Linked DNA regions of Homo sapiens. The protein of the gene in region 2 interacts with the protein of the main gene of each other region in a biochemical or structural test. Each region holds a gene or a part of one and is shown on either strand. Other genes may lie near its edges.

Region 1 (4,747 bases), on a different chromosome or scaffold from region 2:
GCTCAGCATCCTCCCCACCCCACCCATACCTGCAGTGACCAACCCATGTGACCGCAAGAAATGCGAGTGGCTCTGCCTGCTGAGCCCCAGTGGGCCTGTCTGCACCTGTCCCAATGGGAAGCGGCTGGACAACGGCACATGCGTGCCTGTGCCCTCTCCAACGCCCCCCCCAGATGGTATGCTTATGCCCTCCCAGTCCCAGCCATGCCTCAGGACCATCTCCTTCCTGTGGCTCCTGACTTCCCCTGACCTTGTTGCCTGTCCCTCTCCTCCTATTCCCCTGGCTCTGCCCCTTGACGGGCCCTTCCTGCAGCTCCCCGGCCTGGAACCTGTAACCTGCAGTGCTTCAACGGTGGCAGCTGTTTCCTCAATGCACGGAGGCAGCCCAAGTGCCGCTGCCAACCCCGCTACACGGGTGACAAGTGTGAACTGGACCAGTGCTGGGAGCACTGTCGCAATGGGGGCACCTGTGCTGCCTCCCCCTCTGGTATGCCCCCTCATCCCGCCACGCCTGCTCCTTGCCCCTGGGCCCCAGCCCCGCCACCCACCACCCCACCTCAGGCAAATGCCCAGCCCCTGCCTCGCCTCCAGCCTCCTTTCCACAACCCAGCATCCAGTCACTCCAGTCTCTGCTTCTCGCCCAGGTCCCCCCAGCCCATTCCTCTGCTATAGGGCCAGGTGGTCTCGAGGGCCACAGTCGCGCTCACACATCCTCTCCCACCAGGCATGCCCACGTGCCGGTGCCCCACGGGCTTCACGGGCCCCAAATGCACCCAGCAGGTGTGTGCGGGCTACTGTGCCAACAACAGCACCTGCACTGTCAACCAGGGCAACCAGCCCCAGTGCCGATGCCTACCCGGCTTCCTGGGCGACCGCTGCCAGTACCGTGAGTGAGCCATCCCTGGGCCCCAGGGCATGCGGGAGGGTGACGGGGGACCCCAGAGCATGGGGTGATGTTCAACCTGTGCCTGGGACCCACAGGGGCAAGTTCAGGAAAGAAGGCCTTATGCAGCTGAGCCAGGCCCAAGCTGCTGGCGCTTCCCCACAAAGGTGCTGGCACACTTCCCCTGAGGCAGTGCACCCCCTGCACCAAGATTATGCAAACAGAAAAGCTCTGTTCAACCTATGGAGAGCCCTCATGAGGGTGGGGCTTGAGGCACTTCTCTCCCTCCCCAACCACAGGGCAGTGCTCTGGCTACTGTGAGAACTTTGGCACATGCCAGATGGCTGCTGATGGCTCCCGACAATGCCGCTGCACTGCCTACTTTGAGGGATCGAGGTGTGAGGTGAACAAGTGCAGCCGCTGTCTCGAAGGGGCCTGTGTGGTCAACAAGCAGAGTGGGGATGTCACCTGCAAGTGAGTGGGGCCCTCCTCCACAGTTCCACCCAGCTGGGCCCCTGCCCTGTCCTAGCCCTGCCCTGCCCCTCCCTTCCTCAGCATCCCAGGCACGCCTCTGCCAGCCCCAGCCCCAGCCTCTGATTCCTTCCTGCAGCTGCACGGATGGCCGGGTGGCCCCCAGCTGTCTGACCTGCGTCGGCCACTGCAGCAATGGCGGCTCCTGTACCATGAACAGCAAAATGATGCCTGAGTGCCAGTGAGTTGGGCCCGGGCTTCACCCAGGCATAGATCATCGCTCCCTTCCCCAGATTTGAGCAGGAGGACCGTCAGGCCTCAGTGCCCACCCCCCGCCCTGTTTTCCTGGCAGCAGTGGCTATGGAGGTTATACCTACTCAGCCGTGTCCCTCCTTTCTGCAGGTGCCCACCCCACATGACAGGGCCCCGGTGTGAGGAGCACGTCTTCAGCCAGCAGCAGCCAGGACGTAGGTGGCAGGGGTTGGGGCAGGCAGGGCCACCGGGACCTAGAGCAGGGGGACCGTGTGCCTCCTGCTTCCCTGAGCCTTGGTGACTCAGTGTCCCACCTCTTCCCTCCAGATATAGCCTCCATCCTAATCCCTCTGCTGTTGCTGCTGCTGCTGGTTCTGGTGGCCGGAGTGGTATTCTGGTATAAGCGGCGAGTCCAAGGGTGAGTCACAGGGATTCTGGAACATTCTGGTCATTATTTTGCCATCCTAGCCTTCCCCCCCAATAATCTCTGTCTCCTTATACTCCTGCCTTTCCCCAGGGCTAAGGGCTTCCAGCACCAACGGATGACCAACGGGGCCATGAACGTGGAGATTGGAAACCCCACCTACAAGATGTACGAAGGCGGAGAGCCTGATGATGTGGGAGGCCTACTGGACGCTGACTTTGCCCTGGACCCTGACAAGGTGGGCTGGGAGGCGGGCAGGGTCGAGTGCCAAGAGGCCGTGGGTGGCCTAACCAAAGGTGTTGGGTTAGGTGAGGGACGGAGGTGGGGGTGGGGTAACCTGGGCTACAGGCCCAGCTCCTGAGCCCTACCTGAACCCTCTGTCACCCTGCAGCCCACCAACTTCACCAACCCCGTGTATGCCACACTCTACATGGGGGGCCATGGCAGTCGCCACTCCCTGGCCAGCACGGACGAGAAGCGAGAACTCCTGGGCCGGGGCCCTGAGGACGAGATAGGGGACCCCTTGGCATAGGGCCCTGCCCCGTCGGACTGCCCCCAGAAAGCCTCCTGCCCCCTGCCAGTGAAGTCCTTCAGTGAGCCCCTCCCCAGCCAGCCCTTCCCTGGCCCCGCCGGATGTATAAATGTAAAAATGAAGGAATTACATTTTATATGTGAGCGAGCAAGCCGGCAAGCGAGCACAGTATTATTTCTCCATCCCCTCCCTGCCTGCTCCTTGGCACCCCCATGCTGCCTTCAGGGAGACAGGCAGGGAGGGCTTGGGGCTGCACCTCCTACCCTCCCACCAGAACGCACCCCACTGGGAGAGCTGGTGGTGCAGCCTTCCCCTCCCTGTATAAGACACTTTGCCAAGGCTCTCCCCTCTCGCCCCATCCCTGCTTGCCCGCTCCCACAGCTTCCTGAGGGCTAATTCTGGGAAGGGAGAGTTCTTTGCTGCCCCTGTCTGGAAGACGTGGCTCTGGGTGAGGTAGGCGGGAAAGGATGGAGTGTTTTAGTTCTTGGGGGAGGCCACCCCAAACCCCAGCCCCAACTCCAGGGGCACCTATGAGATGGCCATGCTCAACCCCCCTCCCAGACAGGCCCTCCCTGTCTCCAGGGCCCCCACCGAGGTTCCCAGGGCTGGAGACTTCCTCTGGTAAACATTCCTCCAGCCTCCCCTCCCCTGGGGACGCCAAGGAGGTGGGCCACACCCAGGAAGGGAAAGCGGGCAGCCCCGTTTTGGGGACGTGAACGTTTTAATAATTTTTGCTGAATTCCTTTACAACTAAATAACACAGATATTGTTATAAATAAAATTGTAAAAAAAAAAAAAAAAAAAAAGGCCAAAAAAAAAAAAAAGAAAGAAAAAAAGCCGCTGGTGTCTGCCTGTGTGTGAGAGACGCTGGGAGCTGGGGCTGCGCTTTCCTGCTTCGGCCACCAGAGGGAGACCTGCCCCGTGCTGGAGGCAGGCTGGCGCGTGGTTTTTAGTGCCCTTCTCCCAGGGCCCTCCCCCTCTCCATCTTACTGTGCCCGGGAAGCGGGTGGCACTGGACTTGACATGGAAGATCTGCTTCTCCTGGCTGTGTGACCTTCAGCCATGACTTCGAGTCTCCAGATTTTGTGTTCCCTCTGGGTCTAGGACACTAACTCAGATCTGTTTCTCTGCATTCACTTCTACCAGACACCACCCCCCTACCCAAAATGATCACCCACAGTGAGAAGCCCCACTATAAGAAGTGAATACACTGAGGCTGCAAAGGTTTTCTCATCCTTCAGGGTCCTCCCATGCGGTTCTCTCTGCCTGAGTCTGCTCTTGAAGCACTGACGTCTCACTTTGTGGAGACTAATGAATCAAATGCGAAGTAAAATGCTGCATTCCAGAGCCAGGTGTCTCCTGCGGTAAAGGAGAGCTGGGAAGACCAGTTTGCCAGGCCCTCTAGGCCCCCAGCAGCTCCAGCTCACCAATCATTTCAGTCATTCCAGGGGGTAACAGGAAAAAACTGTCAATCAAAAGTGTCCAGGTCCATTTCAACCCCTGCCTAGAGGGGGAAACTTCTTGCAGAAAGTTGCACAGTTTACACTGCCCAGGACTAGAGAGGGTTTGAGTCCCAGTACAGCAAATATGAGCTCAGGAAGGGTGGCTGCAAATGTCTGAAGATCCCTTACCCAACTCCCAACCAGGAAGTGCTGCCTTTCATTCCTCCTCCCTCACTGGTTCAACTCCAGGAGATTCCTCCCAGGCTTCCTTCTGCCTTGGGGAAGCTACAAGTCTAGGCACCTGTGGAAAGAGGAGCCCTCCCCTTCCCTTCTTAGCCTTCAGAAGCTCTCTCCAACCTCATCCTCCAAGCCAACTCTGAGATCCTCCCCTGCCTTCAAAAGGGCCCTGGATGGGCAACTGCGGGGAAACAGAATCCGTGGTTGCCGAGTAGGAGGTCTGTGTCCCAATCTGGCCACCAGGTGGTGTCTGTACGCCTGGAGCACCGCCTATCCTGAAGCCCCACACAGCCCCCGCCTCAGCACTCATTATGCACCTGCGGGGGACCCCAGCCCAGTCTCTCGCTTCCTTCTCTCCGGCTATTTTGCCACACCCCTCCACCCTCTGCCAGCCAGCTCCCCTCCCTGCCCCAGCGCCTGCCTGCTCCCACCACCACCAGCCCCAACCCTGCCCCTCTGCCATCGGTGCATCTGGTGCCCCCCGGGAGCCACTGATCTCTGCCTGT
Region 2 (6,083 bases):
TCCACGCCCTCAATCCATCCTTTAATTCAATGCAGCCACTTAAGCTGCAGCCTGTGGTGAGGAGGGGATGCAGGCTCTCTGGCTGTGACTAGGTGGTTGAGATCTGCCCACAGCCAAGCCTAGGGCGCCTGGATGCTGGCTTTGTCTCCTGGCCAGAGAATGGCCCCTCTCTGTGCAGTGTGCCCTGCTTCCATGCTAGGGGATGCTAGCCTTGGACTGAAAGCTTTATTAGCTCACACCCCAACTTTCTGGGAAGGGGCCCAGGCAAGGCCCAAGAATATCACAGTCTGGCCTGCACAGAGTGAAGAAGGAGAAAAGGGGAGGAACCTGCCTTGGGAACTTGTCTCATTCTTGGCTCTGCTCTGAAGCTCCTGCTGGCCTCCCTCATACCAAGACCTGGGCCTGCCTTTCCTTCTTGCCCTTCTGGCTTCTCTCTAATAATGGCTTTGGGTTGGTCTTTGGAGCTAAGATAACTTTGCTCTTGAGCAAAAGGTTCTGGAAGAGGGAGTTGTCCTTTACATCCACCCCTGACCTGCTAAGGATGTTCCCTAGCTGAGGCAGGTCTACATTCTAAGGAACGATTAGTAGCCATGATGGCAAGACTGCTTTCCTGAGAGGAAAAGCCAGGCACCATGGCAGCAGATGATTACCGTGAGGGCCCAGTGAAAGGGGCCTGATCACGAAAGCTGAGAAAGTAGTGGCCACCCCTCTGGGCCCCAGGGACAGGGAAAAGAGAAGCAGCCATGACCTTTGGCTCTAGGTATTGGGATATTCTCAGGGCTGGTGGTCGGAGGTTGCCTTCTGCACGGAAGGTGCCTCCAGCTCCTTGCTAGGTGCCGCACTGAAGGAAAGGGGCCAGCATGACTGGTCGGCAGTCCAGATTTGCAAATAGGACTCCACGAGTTGTGGCACAGTTTGCTCTGCACGTTTTCTGCCCTGTGGACAGGGTCTCTAGGGTTCTCTCGAGAGACCAGAGAAGCCAATGAGGTTTGACCAGAGGCTCTACGACCCAGCAAAGCTAAGGCCCTAGCCTTGGCAGTCCGTACTCTGAAATAACTCAATCGGGAAACTCAGGGACTTGAAGGCCTGGAAGCCCAGGAATAACACCCTCTCGAGGGAGAGACAATGAGGAAGAAGCCATGGCCAAAGCCTAGCAGGGATGGAGGTGCCAGAGGGAACAGAAACAACCAAAATGATCCCAAGAAGTCAACAGTGGGAGGAGAGGGAAAGGCGCCAAGTCTTAGAATGTGTGTCTGTGGGTGCAGAAGAGGGGTGCTCTGCAGGAAATGCAGTTGAGGCGCTAAGAAGGAGAATGCTGGGAAGGTCCTGGCGAGAGACCGAGAAGCCTGGAGGGCTCAATTCACCACGAGTAGCTGTTTGGGGCTGAAGAGAGATTTGGGTCAATCTTTAGAGAAGACAGCCTCTAGGGAGAGTCTTTGGGAGGGTCCCCTCAAGGTAAAGGGACAGGACTGGGGTGAGGGCTGGATCCCAGCGCAGGAGGTGGAGTGTTTCTGGGTCTCAGGCAACACATTTGTGTTACGTTACATTCTCACAACAACCATGAGAGGGACTGCTATTGTCCCATTTCACAGATAAGAAGACCAAACCTTAGTGCTCTGAAGTCACTAATGCAAGGCCCCACTGCCCAGTCACTTGTGGAGCCAGTGAATTCACACCACCTGACTCCAAACCTGTACACTTTAAGAGCCCACTGACATCCTCTCCTTTCTCTGCCTTCCTCCACGACCCTCCTTTTCCGCCTGCCTTCTTGGTCTCTGCTGCGGGGGGCCAACCTGGACCTTGGGGTCCAGTGTCCTGCCATTAGTCATCTGATACCCGGGCACTAAGCCCAACCGGAGGGACAAAGCCCACACCGGCCACGGGGTGGAGGAGAGTCGATGTCGGATTTAGGGCGGGGCTGAACCAAGCCCAGGGCCGCGGGGGCCGTGGCTTCAGCACCGCGGAGAGCGCCATCTCCGGGGGCGGGGCTGGCGGGGTGGGGGCGGGGCCTGGGCGGGGCGCGCGAGACCCCGGCCGGGTCCCGGGGGCGCGCGCGGGGCGCTCTCGCCAGTCCCGCGGGCCGTGCGCGGTGCTGTGCCGCGCCCTGCCAGACACAGGTGCGCCCGCCTAGCCCGAACTCCGCGGCGGCGGCTGCCCTCTCGCCGCGCCTCCGCCTCCTTCGCAGCCGCCGCCTCCTCCGCGCCGCGCTCCGCCCGGATGGCCAGGGCTGTGCCCGAGAATGGCGGAGCGAGAAAGCGGCGGCCTGGGAGGGGGGGCCGCGTCCCCGCCCGCCGCCTCCCCGTTCCTGGGGCTGCACATCGCTTCGCCTCCCAATTTCAGGTGAGAGTCCCCGGCCGCCGCGCGCCTCGCCCTTCAGCGGGGACTGATCCGCATTGGCTGCCCTGCCCGCCCCCCACCCCAGAACCTCGGGAACCCGGGAACGAAAGGGCTGCGTGGGAGTGGGGTCTCTTCCCGGGACAGAGCCCCCCTCAGAAGCCCCGCCAGCCTCAAGTCCGGACTGGTAGCCGTTGCATGTTCACGAGGCTGTTCCCTCCGCCATTCCTGGTCCTAGGCTGGGAGGTCTGCGCTGGAATTGGAGGAGGGGGCTCGGAGGCCTCCTTCTCCCCAACCTCCGGGCTGCGGCAGGGTCTGGGGTCGGGGTTGCGATCCCGGAGCGGGCAGGCAGGCTGCATCTTAGCCTGTGAATAGAGCTGGGAACAGCCTGGAGGGGCGCGGGTCGCAGTTTCCTGGGGCAACGACATTGTTGGTGCTGGGAGGAGGATGTTTGAGCCCCTCCCCGAGCCCTGCCTGGCCAGATGGGCCTACCTGCCAGGCCTGGCGTGGCCGGGCCCCTCTCTGGATTGGGCAGCACCGACCTAGGCAGGTGTGTCTCTCAGGGCAGGCGCTGAAGGCTCAGCCTCAACCAGGGGAATCCTAGGCCCGGCTGCGGGAAGGGAAGTCGGCTCGGCTCTGGAGTAGCCAGGGCCAGCGAGGGTGTCGAGGGGATCCCTGCTGGGGTAAATACCCAGAACCCTGACCTGAGCTCCTATTCCACCACCCCCACCCCCCAATCTGGTGTTAGGCCCGATGCATTTCAGAGAAGTGAGGGGTGAGTGTTGTGTGGAGGAGGAATAGATGTACCTCCCCCATAATTCTGAACCCTAGTTGGTGGGGAGGAAGAGGCCGAAGTCACTGCTCCCGGCCTAGAGAGGGAGGCTTAGACATACCCCATTGTTTCCCCATCTCGAGAACTGGCGCCTTCCCCTCTCCTGGGGCACCACCCCAGCCAGGCTCCAGCTGGGCTGTGGTGCCAGCCCCTCCTGGGAGCAAGGGGTCACTGGCTCCCAGGTCCTCAGGTGGGCAGAGACCCCTGGGGATCTCTAATAGCATCATCAAACTCAGAAACCTTCCCTGAGGCCCTGAGCTGAGCTGGAAGGACCAGAGGGGGCCAGATGGAGGAGGCCAGGCCTGAAGGCTCCAGGGCTGCAGCTCTCTGATAATGCCTTAGACTGAGGTCTGAGACTCCACCTGGCATGGTGCATGAGGCCTCCATGCAAATACTGCCTCCCCACCTGGAGGCCTCTGCAGTGGAAGCACATGGGGCTTAGAGGGACCTGGGTTCAAATCCTAGCTCCACTACTTTCTAACTGCATGACCCAGGCAGGTTTTTGTCCTCTCTGGGTGCCATCTGTTAAGTGGGCTAATTAATATTGATTCTTGCCTGGAAAGGAGAAAAAGCACATCAGGTCAGTGTTCAACAAGTGTCAGCCCCCACACTAGCAGACAACACTACGGCTCGCTGCTGTCCAGAGTGTCTTCCCAAGGCCCCTCCTTTAACCCTCATAACTGCCCCAAGAGAGGGTAGTGACCTGCCCATTTTATAGATGAGGTGATTGAGATTAACAAAGGCAGGGTGGCTCATCTGGAGACTACAAAAGAGTCAGAGACTAAGGCTACACTGGGACCCAGGTCTGTGCGTGTTTAGTCCACTCTACGTCCCAGCCCTGCCTCTGGCCCAGTGGGCAGCTTTTCTTCCTCGACCTGCTTCCCCAGGTGTCATAGATGCTTTAATGAGAGGAGCTGAGGAAGCAGACACCAGCCAGTGAATGTGTGGCCAGCTCTGCGGCATGTGGGACAAGGGTGGCAGTAGGCCACGAGGCTGAGGTGTGGGCCAGCACTCCAGAACATGGTGGCCTGGCTGCGGAGACAAGGCCAGTGCGTGGGAATAATAAGCGTCAGTGTCTCAGGCCCTGCCGGCCTGCCCCGCTGCTCCCAAAGCCCCCGCTGCCCTTTCTCCTGGCCCGCCTCTCACTGTGCTTGGCCAGGCTCCACTTAACCCTGGGTGGGTAGATAGTGCTTTCTTGTGGCTCTTTGGTGGAGTCATAGATCCAACTGGCCTGGGTTTGAATCCTGGCTGGCCCTTCTTACCTGTGTGCCCTGACACTGGGCACTTAAGCCCTCTGAGCCTCTGAGATGCCAGCACTGGCCCCTGCTCAGGATGGTCCTAAGAATCAGATGAGATAACACGTGTTGAGTGTTTCAAGGGCTGAGGAGAGCCGCCTGTAGGCAGGGCTGTGTGTGTGCACACACACACAGGCGCCTTGACCCCCAGTGCCACTGTCAGCTCCCAGAAAATAAAGGGGGTCTGTACCCAAACTTTGGTATCCCCATTGCTCAGCACGGGATAGTTACTCAATAACAGTGGTAAGCGCTGACATTTGGAAGGCACTCAGTTCGCCCAGGCACCATTCTAAGAGTTTCCTATGTGCAAGAGTATTTACTCCTCCCAATAACTGTATCAACAGAGCGTTGTTATTATCCACACTTGCATGAAGAAACTGAGGCAGAGGGAGGTTAGGTAAGTGGCAGAGCTTGTAAGTGGCAGGCAGTCTGATGTCAGAGCCACCCCAAAAAGAAAGAGCCCTAGAGTATTGGAAGAGCATGTGCGGAGGGGGCGAGCATGTGGACCTGACCTGAAGGGGTGGGAGCATTCGTTTGTTTGTGGTAGGTTAAATACGTGTTAATTTTTGTTCTGATTATAGCTCCAGCTGTTTATAGTGGTTGGTTACCTTTGGGTATGGTATGGGGTGAGGGATTTTTACTTCTTATTTTACATACTTTTTTTTTTTGAGACAGAGTCTCACTCTGTCGCCCAGGCTGGAGGTTGGAGTGCAGTGGCATGATCTAAGCTCACTGCAACCTCTGTATTCTGGGTTCAAGCGGTTCTCCTGCCTCAGCTTCCCAAGTAGCTGGGATTACAGGTGCCCACCACCACGCCCGGCTAATTTTTGTATTTTTAGTAGAGACGGGGTTTCAACATGTTGGCCAGGCTGGTCTTGAACTCCTGACCTCAGGTGATCCACCCATCTCAGCCTCCCAAAGTGCTGGAATTACAGGCTCGAGCCACCACGCCCAGTGTCATACTTTTATATTACAGGTTGAGTATGCCTGATCTGACATGCTTTGGACCAGAAGTGTTTCAGATTTCTAATTTTTTTGGATTTTGGAATATTTGCATATGCATAACGAAATAGCTTGGGGATGGGAACCCAAGTCTAAAAATGAAATTGATTTTTTCTTATATATCTTATACATATAGCCTCAAGGTAATTTTATACAATAATTTAAATAATTGTGTGCATGAAACAAAGTTTTGATTACAACCTGTCATGTGGAGTCAGGTGTGGAATTTACAGCCTGTGCTGTTATGTTGGTGCTCAAACATTTAGGATTTTGGAGCATTTCAGATTTCAGGTTTTTGGATTAGGGCTGCTCACCTGTATTTGACTTCTTATTTTATAATGAGTATAGGTTACTTCTGTGTCTTACAAAATAATAAAAGAAAATTCAAAATTAAAGTGATACATGTTCATTATAAAGAAAACTCTAGAAAAGAGAATTTAGAAATTTACACAGTGGAGACATTGGCACTGGGTAGGTGGGACAAAGAGGAGGGGCAGAAGGACAGTTCACGTGGGAGGAACAGCAGAGACAAAGGGGGTTTCATGGACAAGAAGGGAGCGAGCGGCCTGTCTGGGGTGTGTAGAAGGGGAATCGTGGATCTGAGAGACCTTAGAGACCAG
Region 3 (5,557 bases), on a different chromosome or scaffold from region 2:
TGTTCTGTCTCCACAGAAGCATCTTAACCTGTCTGCAAACTCTTTAAGCTTCTTTCTCTCTACCCCATCCTTATAGCAAAGGACTAGTGCTTGGAAAACAGACAAACTCTTAGGAACATAAACATTGGAGTGAAGTAAATTGGAAAAGGAGTAGGAGCCTAAGATTCACAGAAAAATGAAATACTGCACCAGACTTAAGGGATCCTGTAGTCTGATCGCTCAGCTCATTTTCCAGAACTTTCCTGTCTATCACAAAGCTCTGCTCCAAATAAGAAAACTTTAGGATCCAAATAAACCTTCTAAAAGTCCTTCTTTCTCCTGTTCTCCTTCTAAACTTAAAGTTGCAACATGGTCACATGGGCACAGATCACCATGTCTTTTTTCTTAATGTTTCCAATACTTTATTCCTTTCAATTCTGTAAGTTACCCCAGGGCTGCCAGCTCTTGAGAAATTTCTGTAGCTTTTTCAAGTGTGTCTTCACATACAAAATGAAAATAACATCGTCAGTCAATTTTATCTGATAAGGTATACTGAACACCTGTTATTTTTGCATCCCAGCCTCTGTTCACCATTCTCCCAATAATTACCCCCATTTCTCTCTGGACTCCACCCCTTCATACATGATCTCAAAGACTGAGTATACAGCCCAAGCCTAAGCCATGGGAACACATCATGACCCGGGATTCAGTGGTTGGTTCTCCAATGAGTTTATGACCTAAGTAGAGACCCTGAGATGCAACTGAAACTTTTGCTGGGAATAGCTAAGATAAAAACTCTTTTTCTTTCCCAGTGGATGTGATCTGATAGGAGGTGGCTCCAGAGCCACTGACAGCCGCTTTACATCAAAGGAGAACATGTTTAAGAATGGAGTCATCTCAGAGCCAGGAGACGGAAAAAAGACAAGATTGGCCTGACATAGTTTGAGCCTCCATTTTATATTAGGTTGAACCAAATGAAATTGCCAATATTTGACTATTTCTGCATAGGAAAAAAAATCAATCTCAAATGGATCAACCTAATTATCTGTATCTTTTCAACTATGTATTTATTTTCTTTGAGACAGGGTCTCACTCTGTCGCTGAGGCTGGAGTGCAGTGGCATGATCACAGCTCACTGTAGCCTCGACCTCCTGGGCTCAAGCGATCATCTCACCTCAGCCTCCCAAGTAGCTGGGACCACAAGGGCACACCACCATTCCTGGCTAATTTTTTGTATTTTTTGTAGAGATGGAGTCTCACTATGTTGCCCAGGCTGGTCTCAAACTCCTAGGCTCAAGCAATCCGCTCACCTCAGACTCCCAAAGTGCTGAGATTTATAGGCATGAGCCACCACACCCAGCCTCAACTATGTATTTCAATAACCTTCCTTTTTTGCCTCAGACAGTTTAACTTAGTTTTGTGACATTCACCAACATAACAGTACTGAATAACATGTGAAGTTGTGGTAGCCACTGTAAGGATGTAACAACATGCACAGGTGCATCATTCTCAGACCCACGGTAAAGAAGATACCAAAATACTGCAACATCTTCCTCCTCTCAAGTTTGGAAAAAGTAAAATTCTCGTATTGGGTAATAATGATGAATGGAAATCTATATGAGACTTCACAGTTTATTAAACATTTCACATTCATTGCCTTTGCATAACCACCCCGTGAGGTAGATATATGTCCATTTTACAGATAAGAAAACTGCCCCAGAGCACCCAGCATGTGTGGTACTGGATTTCCCAGATAATAAATGGCAGAGGTAGGAATCAAACCAAGATCCTCCAACTTCAAAATCACAAGCCCTTCCCACTTCATCTCAAAACACTGTAACTGTCAAGAAATTACTTCGGAAACATTTGCATTAGGAACATGTGAAGAACCACAGAAATGCTCTTGACATTTCAAAACAACTACTAGCTGATCATTATCAAGAAGCATCCCAGAACTCGGATGCTGAAACATCTCCAATCTTTCTAATGCTGGTGAGATCCTGGGCAGGGTTATTAGGAATGAGTCAATGACTATTTCAGAATCTTAAATGCAAAACTGCAGTCCATTTTAATTGCGAGATATGTAGACACCTCTTTTCAGTTCTCATCTTCCTTAATGTTTCTGTAGTATTGATACTATTGACTCATCAGCACACTGTTGATATTTAATAAATATTCATGGAAAAAATAAAATAAACATTCACAGAATACACAATAGTGGTAAAAATTTTTAATTACTCAAGACTATAAAGTTAATAGGATACGATAGAACCATTTGATTTATACCAAAGGTTCCATCAAGCTTATTTTTTCCATGCTAGAATAGGGCTTCACAATTAGTATTTTTTTAGTTGCTCTAGATTCGTGCAGTCAACCTTGAGAACCCCTTTCCTATCCATTCAACACTCTTTCATAAGCACCTTCTACTTTCTTTTCTTTTTTTTTTCTTTTTTATTTATTTTTATTTTATTTTATTTTATTTTATTTTATTTTATTTTATTTTATTTTATTTTATTTTTGAGACAGATTCTTGCTCTGTCACCCAGGCTGGAGTGCAGTGGCACAATCTCAGCTCACTGCAATCCCTGCCTCCTGTGTTCAAGCAGTTCTCCTGCCTCAGCCTCCCGAGTAGCTGGGATTACAGGTGTGCGTCACCACGCCCAGCTAATTTTTGTGTTTTAAATAGAAACAGGGTTTCACCATGTTGGCCAGGCAGGTCTCGATCTCCTGACCTCATGATCCTCCCGCCTCAGCATCCCAAAGTGCTGGGATTACAGGCATGAGCCCCCACGCCCAGCTCAGCACCTTCTACTTTCTACTTACCTTGTTCTAGCTACTAGGACTTAACAGAAACTCCAAAGCCAATATGACAATGCACTTGCTTCTGATTACACAGGAAATACATCTAGGTTCCTGGTATCATTATTTTTAAATGATAATTTAAAATTTTAATTTAAATATTTTAAAAACCTTTCAGTGTTCTTACAGTGCCTGACTAGAGAACATGAACAATGATTATGACCTAATAATTACCTTTAGTAAGACTGAAAACCTAGTCTTACAGCAGCCTGCACTACAAAACCCAAAGATCTTCAGGAATGCGCTTTGATGGCTCAAGAATTTGAAAAATGGATCTGGAGGTATGGTCTTTGGGAGTAGGGGCACTGACATGGCATCAGTTCTGGACCAAGCTGAAAGCGCATGGTACATGGTTGTAATAACCTATCACAGGATTCCTCTTTGGCCAGGGACAGGTAACCCATCCAATTGTTTTTAAGATTCATCTGCTTATCAGACTGTGCCTTATCTGGCAAGTCAGGATTCCAAAAGGAATCTAGAAATCTCAACCAACCAAACAGGCTGGGGACATTCAGAAGGCATGAATCTAAAAAATGGTCCACTGCAAATTTATATCTTAGCTCTGTCACAGGCTAGATGTCCTTAGGCAAGAAACCTATTAACCGCCTTCCCTTTCATCCTCTCAGCCCCTTTCTTCTCCCTCCTGGGCTAATTGCTTATCTGTAAGAAAAAAAAAATGCAAGCAGACCAGTTGATATCTAAGGTTCCCTCTAGCTGTAAAAAGTCTGAGTTTCTATTAAAATGAGACAGGTGCATGACTGAAGGGAGTTCAGGCAGAAGTCTTATGAAGACTGGTAAAGAGAAACTTTTTCAAGTAGAGAAAGAGAAGCCAACAACTGTGAAATTAAAGCAGCAGTGAGGTTCCAGAGTTGTGATGGAATAAAAACGATACAAGTTTGCTATTGCCCCCACAATCCTTTTAAACATATAAACTTCATGTGAAGATGTAATTGTCATAAAAGCTGATACTAACTCTTAAAAACATTACCACATTTTTATTGGATTAAAGAATATAATGTTGGACCAGGTAAGGTGGCTCCTGCCTATAATGTCAGCACTTTGGGAAGCAGAGGTAGGAGGATCATTTGAGGCCAAGAGTTCAAGACCAGCCTGGGCAACACAGTGAGACCCCATTTCTATTTTTGAAAAATAAGTTTTTTTAATTAGTAAACAGAATACAACTTTGTTTAAGGCCAATACGATTTTCTCAAAAAAAAAAAAAAAAAAGAAAAAATCTTCCAATCACATGCTAGGGTCTGAGAAGTCTTCAGAGAACTGTTAGTGAAAAATGCTTAAAGAAGACTTTCCTTTGTATATTTGAAAATTGGAAATGGAAATAGGAATAGGAAGCAAAACAATATGTTACTTTAAGGGTTGATAAATATAATAAAAATATTGTATTTTTAGATTATTTTCTAGTTTATTTTCACTGTCTATATGCTTTACACCATGCTAAGCACTTGGCATATTTTATCTCTTTATGCTTACAAGATGTCATTGGGTAAATTCTCTTATTATCTTGTCAATTTTGCAGATAAGCCATCTGAGCTATGCAAAGTTGGTTGACTTTCCCAAGGTCACACAGCTAGAAAGTGGTAAAGCCAATGTTGGAACCCAACAGCTTGACTCGAGTTCAGACTCTGCAAAATGTTTTTTCTTGAAAAGCATTACACAAAAGATAAGGAAAATGCAAATAATTTTTAACAACAGATGTGGTATAATTTTTTTCAAAGACTAAACATAGAATACTCAGAGCTCTTTTTTTTCCCCTCCAATTTTTAGTGATGCGAAGTTTGCAATGGTAGCCTACCTAAAAGGTAGTGCTTAAATAAAGGCTGTTACAATCTCATTGGATTTTACTTCATATATTAAGTCAGGATCATTACAACAGGATTCTAGAAATCTCAACGTATCAGGCAGAGGACATTCAGAGGAAATGCGTCTTAAAATGATCAAGTAGGAAGACTGGGAATGGGGAGACTTGGGTTCTGGTCTTAGAAACCTGAGGAGAGATTCTGGAAAAAGATCCACAGTTATGAAGCAGCAGGTGGTACGAGTTGCATATTGCCCCTCAGCTTCTTTGGGAACCTCAAACATGGACAGTAAGTTAGGGAGCATGACATTTTTTGTACAAAAGAAAAAAGAGAAATCGGGCCAGGTGCAGTGGCTCACACCTGTAATCCTAGCACTTTGGGAGGCCTAGGCGGGCAGATCACTTGAGGTCAGGAGTTCAAGACTGGCCTGGCCAACATAGCAAAACCCTGCCTCTACTAAAAATACAAAATATTAGCTGGGCATGGTGCCCCGGGCTTGTAGTCCCAGCTACTTGGGAGGCTGAGGTGTGAGGATCGCTTGAACCTGGGAGGCAGAGGTTGCAGTGAGCCGAGATTGCACCACTGCACTCCAGCCTGGGTGACAGAGCGAGATTCTGTCTCTCTCAAAAAAAAAAAAAAAAAAAAGAGAGAGAGAGAGAGAGAAAACCAGACACTGTATACTGTAGCAATTATAGACTCTGAATTCAGAATCCCTTGAGTTTGCCATTTTCTAGCAGTATGAACTGAGACAAATTACTGAATTGTTCTGTGCCTCCACTTTCTCATCTGTAAAACAGTGATAATAAGAGTACTTACTTCCAAGGGATATTATGAAGATTAATTGAGTCAATAAGTATAAAGTGCTTAGAACAAAGCCTGCCACATATATGTGTATGCTAGGTTAC
Region 4 (4,928 bases), on a different chromosome or scaffold from region 2:
TCAGTCACTGCAAAGATCAAATTGATGTTTTTCTGGGATAGCTTCTCAGTCATCAGCCCCAAAGAGGGATAATCCTAGGAAAATGAAGGATGTAGAGGTTAATGACGTCTCATGTACATCTCTAGGGTCTAAAGCTTAGAACTTATCTTGCTTGGGCTGTGGCTCAGAGTGTGGTGGTGCTTAAACCATTTCACTTCATGCTGAAAGTGAGACAAGAGCCTGGGCAACATAGCAAGACCCCATCTCTACAAAAAAATTTTTTTTATTTGCCAGATGTGGTGGTAAGTGCCTATAGTCCTAGCTACTGGGGAGGCTGAGGCAGGATCACTTCAGCCCAGGAGTTGGAGGTTACAGTGAGCTATGATTGCACCACTGCACTCCAGCCTGGGCAGCAGAGCAAGACTCTGTCTCTAAAAAAAAAAGGGGGGTGACAGTGAGATAAGAAGGGTAAGTAGCACAGAAGTCTACTTGTGAACTCCAGGGATAGACGAAGAGGTACAGGCCAGTGGTGTCAAAACTAAGCACCTCTTTCTTCCTGCTTGAATTTAATGCACTAATACTATGGAGCTGCTTCCGTGCACAAGGGACTGGGTTAGGCCTCTGTTTTGGAACTACTGACAAATGCCTTGGCCTGGCCCTCGTGATCCTCCACCGTGTGGTCTCAGTCTTTCTTTCCAAATATTGCTCACCTCTCTCCCTCTTCCACTCAGCAGTGATCTGGCCCACTGTCTCCCACCTGGAGTGGCCTTCTTGTTGGTAATCCTCCTCCTTTCTTAGGGCCTAGCTTAGCCCCCACCTTCTTCAGGAGACTTCCTTGGCCATCCCAGCTCATGATGACCTTTCCTCCCTTGGATACGTATAGCCACATTGGCTGTGCCACACCCATTTGGCACTAATCATGCATCTTGTGTTATTGTAAATATATATATCCTTTCTCCTCAAGTAGACCAAAAACTCCCCAAGGATAGAACCATACATAGTCTTGTTACCTCCCTCAGCCCCTGGCCCAGTGCCTTGCATAGATTAGGGGTCAAATGTTGCTGACTCATTGTCTGGTAGTGCTTGACTTGGATATGGCTGACACCAAGGAACTCAAGGACACTGTGCGGGGGCGGTGGTGAATCGTGAACATGTCCATGGGATCCTAGACCTTGCAGGGAGCTCATTAGATCCTCAGCTCAGTCTCCTGCCTTTACACAGGTACACCTTTAAGTCACCTAGATGAGGAAGTTGCTATATTGTCCTTAGGAGACGAAGAGTTCACACCTGCCCCAGATACCTAGAGCATTACAGCACATTTCTCTTATGGCTTATAGTAATTTCTCCTGATTCAATTTAAATATTTTCCTCTTGTTTAACCTTCTATGGCCATATAAAACAACTTATAAGAAGTTTTCTCATGTATAAGCTAAATCATCCTTTAGCCTTCTTTCTTTCAAGCTAAATGACTCTGGCCCTTTAATCTTTCCTCGTAGGACCTGTTCACCATGCCTTTTATGTTCTTTCCCCTCTTTCTCTCTCTCTCTCTCTCTCTCTCTCTCTCTCTCTTTCTAAGAGAAGGGGTCTCCACTAGGAGCAATGGCTCACACCTGTAATCCCAGCACTTTGGGAGGCTTAAGAGGGCAGATTGCTTAAGCCAAGGAGTTTGAGACCAGCCTGGGCAACATAGAAAGACCCTGTTTTCAAAAATTAGCTGGGCATGGTAGTGCATGCCTGTGGTCCCAGCTATTCAGGAGACTGAGGTGGTGAAGCTTGTGAGCCAAGATTGCACTACTGCACTCCAGCTGGGCAACAAAGCAAGACTCTGTATCAAAAAAAAAAAAAAAAAAAAAAAAAAAAAAAAGCAGGGGTGGTTCTTGCTCTGTCACTCAGGCTGGAGTGTAGTGGCAAGATCACAGCTCACTGCAGCCTCAGACTACTGGGCTCAAGAGATCTTTCTGCCTCAGCCCCACAAGTAGCTGGGACCATAGGCACAAACCACAACACTCAACGAATTTTTGCATTTTCTTGTAGAGGCAGGGTCTCACTATATTTCCCAAGCTGGTTTCAAACTCCTGGACTCACGTGATCCTCCCACCTCAGCCTCCCAAAGTGCTGAGATTACAGGCATGAGCCATCATATGCCTGGCCAATCTTTCTCTTTTTTTTCCTCTGTCTTCTTCCAATAACCACAAGTTAGTATGGTATTCCAAGAAAGGGCTAATCAGAGTGGAGAGGAAGACCTGCTTTCCAGCTGGGTTGTAAAAATCCTTTGGGTCCATTCTGGATCCCATGATGCTGCTGCTATGCTGGTGACAGTGAAGGCAGTGATAACACCACAATCAGGGACATCTCTAATGGTTATATAGGTTGTATGCTGGATGACGGTGTCCAGTTGGTAAGGGATAGGGGCAAGCTGGAACCGAGCCCTGCACCCTGCCCAGAAGGAGGGGCTGCCATTTTCATATTCACACAGACTCTGCCTAGATTAGGGCAACCCTCACAATCATGAATAGAAACCATAGGTGGTGCCAGAGATCTCACCATGGTAGTGGAGGCAGAGTAATGATTGTCACTACCAACATGACACTGCCCGTCATTAGGCTGGACAATGCCTGCCAGCCTTCCGTCCAATGCTATATGAGTCTTGGCATCAGTGGTAAACACCAGCAAGTGGGATGCATCATTCCTCCAGCCAATCTTTTCCTGTTAAAAGAAAACAAAAAACAAAGGCAGAGGAGACAAAACAAATTCAGCCATGTCACTGGTAGAGAACAGAGACCCAAGGTGCTCCCTGGCTAAAGGGCTGGACAGCTTATTTTTCTTCAAAACAAGGGTCTCAGTCCCAGTCCTTGGAACCGAAGCTGAAGCTTTCCAGTTCAGGAGTTTCATTCTCTTCAGAAAACAGTCTCATAGCTGATTAGTTCAAGCAGCTGAATGAGATCTTCTTAAACTCCAAACTTAACTCTTCTAATGACAGTCACATTGCTCATCTAGAAACTGACGTGCATCCACAGAGCTGATCTGGGCTAGAAGAAATCTCATCTGAACATCTGCCTACTTTGCTGAGGTTAAGTTAACTCAGCCTTAACTCTGAAGTAACTCTGAAGATGGGAAGATGCTCTCCCCTGGGAACATCTGAGACCACTGAGGTTCAAAGAAATGTCAGCTCAGGCCAGGGAGTGGATCTAAGCCAAGGCTGAATATCAGGAGCAACTTACTACTCATAACTGCAGGAAGCCCTGCTTAGTTCTCATCTCATTTTACACCAGAAATCCCCAGAGTTCAGTCACTTCCTTTCCCATTTTGATCTATGCCAGCCACACCTGGCACTCCAAGTCCTCCAAACTCACATCACAGACTGTAGCCTGCATGATGGCATCAAAGCCACCCTCTGGGGCATCTCGGTTCCGTGACACACTCTGCTTCTTCACTTCCTCATTGAAGCGGGTCACCTGGTCAGTTAGCGTCAGCACGTGTTTGTAGCCAAACATGGGCAAGCAGGTGGTCTTCATACTGGGGAGGGATGGGAGATAATTTAAGCAGACACCTTCATGGAAAAGGCAGCATGGGAATTGGGAGGAAAGAGAGGGGACAAATATAGATAGTGGTATGCCAAGGCCAGTTCCATACAACCACAGTTACCCAGACAGTTCAGACTCCAAAATCCTCAAATTATCTGAAGCTCCCCATCAACATTACCCCCATCCAGCTAACCTAGAAGATAAGAGATTGAGCTGGAAACAAGACTCCCTGAGCTTAGATCCCAGGTGCCCTCTGTACTAGTCATGGGACCTTTGGCAAGCCTCTCAATCCAACCTATGAAAGAGGGGCCAGGATAGCACATATCCCATAAGAGTTGTGAGACTTAAGTAAGTTCATACACACAAAGCACTTAGACCAGAGCGAGGCTCGAGTTGCTATTACTATCACCTTATACTTAACACTTTCCTAAAGTAACAATAAAGCAAAAGTCCATCAGTAAGTTAAGGTCCCTGAACCATCAATAAATTGATAGATCATGCAAGACAGGAGCATTTCTGCCCCCAGTCAAAATAGTGTGTTTAATTAATAGCTGATGTCTTGCCTGGGAACCTTACAACCCAGATAGAAGGTTGAATGCCACATCATATAACTTCAAAACTTTTTCTTTTTTTTTTAGAGACAGTTGTGCTCCATTGTCCAGGTTGGAGTGCAGTGGCACAATCATGGCTCACTGCAGCCTCAACCTCCCAGGCTCAATCAATCCTCCCACCTCAGCCTCCCTGTAGTCCTGGGGACTGCAGGCATGCGCCATCACACATAGCTAATTTTTTTGTAATTTTTGTAGAGATGGGGGTCTCACTATGTTGCCTAGGCTGAACTCAAACTCCTAGGCTCAAGTGATCCTCCCATCTTGGCCTCCCAAAGTGCTGGGATTACAGAAGTGAGTCACCCCACCTGGCCGTAACTTTGAAAACTAAAAAGTAAATTCACACCTTTTCAGGCTCAGCAACCAGCATTGTAAGTTATTCTAATACATGGATTTGCACAGTCTCCACCGATTAAATAAATAAGCCATTCAGTTTTAAGCCAAAGTGTCAAACAGAGGCACAAGTTATCCATTTACAGACTATAAAAGTGTCCAACAAATGTCATTTCCACTCTTTTATATTCCTTAGCACTTCATTTCTTCTGTTTTCACCCTGCAGGATGCACGGCCTTGATGAAGACAATAATGCCAACAATGGAATCGATCCTTCTGTAATCGTAATTTCTCGGTTTCCTTATCCATAAATTTCTTTCTACTTTTGACGTCATTTCCCTCCCATTCTCTCTTGCCTTCTATTTATTTGTTACCAAGACTGAGAAGCTGATGAATTTTCTTTCTAGGTTCTCCAAACAGCCTTAGGCTCCATTGACACAACACTCCAGATCCACAAGCTAGCCCATTTGCCAAACAGGGAGAC

Evidence for each region.
Region 1: the proteins of MAPK8IP1 (region 2) and LRP1 form a complex in vitro, tested with the Homo sapiens proteins (one study listed by BioGRID).
Region 3: the proteins of MAPK8IP1 (region 2) and LRP2 form a complex in vitro, tested with the Homo sapiens proteins (one study listed by BioGRID).
Region 4: the proteins of MAPK8IP1 (region 2) and ITGB3 form a complex in vitro, tested with the Homo sapiens proteins (one study listed by IntAct).

What each region holds. Positions count from the first base shown.
Region 1 is NC_000012.12:57,209,994-57,214,740, forward strand, and holds the end of LRP1 (prolow-density lipoprotein receptor-related protein 1 preproprotein), read left to right. Parts: intron 1-35; coding exon 36-176; intron 177-313; coding exon 314-487; intron 488-724; coding exon 725-886; intron 887-1,182; coding exon 1,183-1,357; intron 1,358-1,493; coding exon 1,494-1,595; intron 1,596-1,756; coding exon 1,757-1,821; intron 1,822-1,933; coding exon 1,934-2,024; intron 2,025-2,123; coding exon 2,124-2,268; intron 2,269-2,421; coding exon 2,422-2,562; 3' UTR 2,563-3,368; downstream 3,369-4,747. UniProt on the Homo sapiens protein: Endocytic receptor involved in endocytosis and in phagocytosis of apoptotic cells. Required for early embryonic development. Involved in cellular lipid homeostasis.
Region 2 is NC_000011.10:45,883,582-45,889,664, forward strand, and holds the start of MAPK8IP1 (C-Jun-amino-terminal kinase-interacting protein 1), read left to right. Parts: upstream 1-2,069; 5' UTR 2,070-2,239; coding exon 2,240-2,340; intron 2,341-6,083. UniProt on the Homo sapiens protein: The JNK-interacting protein (JIP) group of scaffold proteins selectively mediates JNK signaling by aggregating specific components of the MAPK cascade to form a functional JNK signaling module. Required for JNK activation in response to excitotoxic stress.
Region 3 is NC_000002.12:169,354,852-169,360,408, forward strand, and holds part of LRP2 (low-density lipoprotein receptor-related protein 2 precursor), read right to left. Parts: intron 1-5,557. UniProt on the Homo sapiens protein: Multiligand endocytic receptor. Acts together with CUBN to mediate endocytosis of high-density lipoproteins. Mediates receptor-mediated uptake of polybasic drugs such as aprotinin, aminoglycosides and polymyxin B.
Region 4 is NC_000017.11:47,284,827-47,289,754, reverse strand, and holds part of ITGB3 (integrin beta-3 precursor), read right to left. Parts: intron 3,496-4,928; coding exon 3,333-3,495; intron 2,686-3,332; coding exon 2,524-2,685; intron 75-2,523; coding exon 1-74. UniProt on the Homo sapiens protein: Integrin alpha-V/beta-3 (ITGAV:ITGB3) is a receptor for cytotactin, fibronectin, laminin, matrix metalloproteinase-2, osteopontin, osteomodulin, prothrombin, thrombospondin, vitronectin and von Willebrand factor.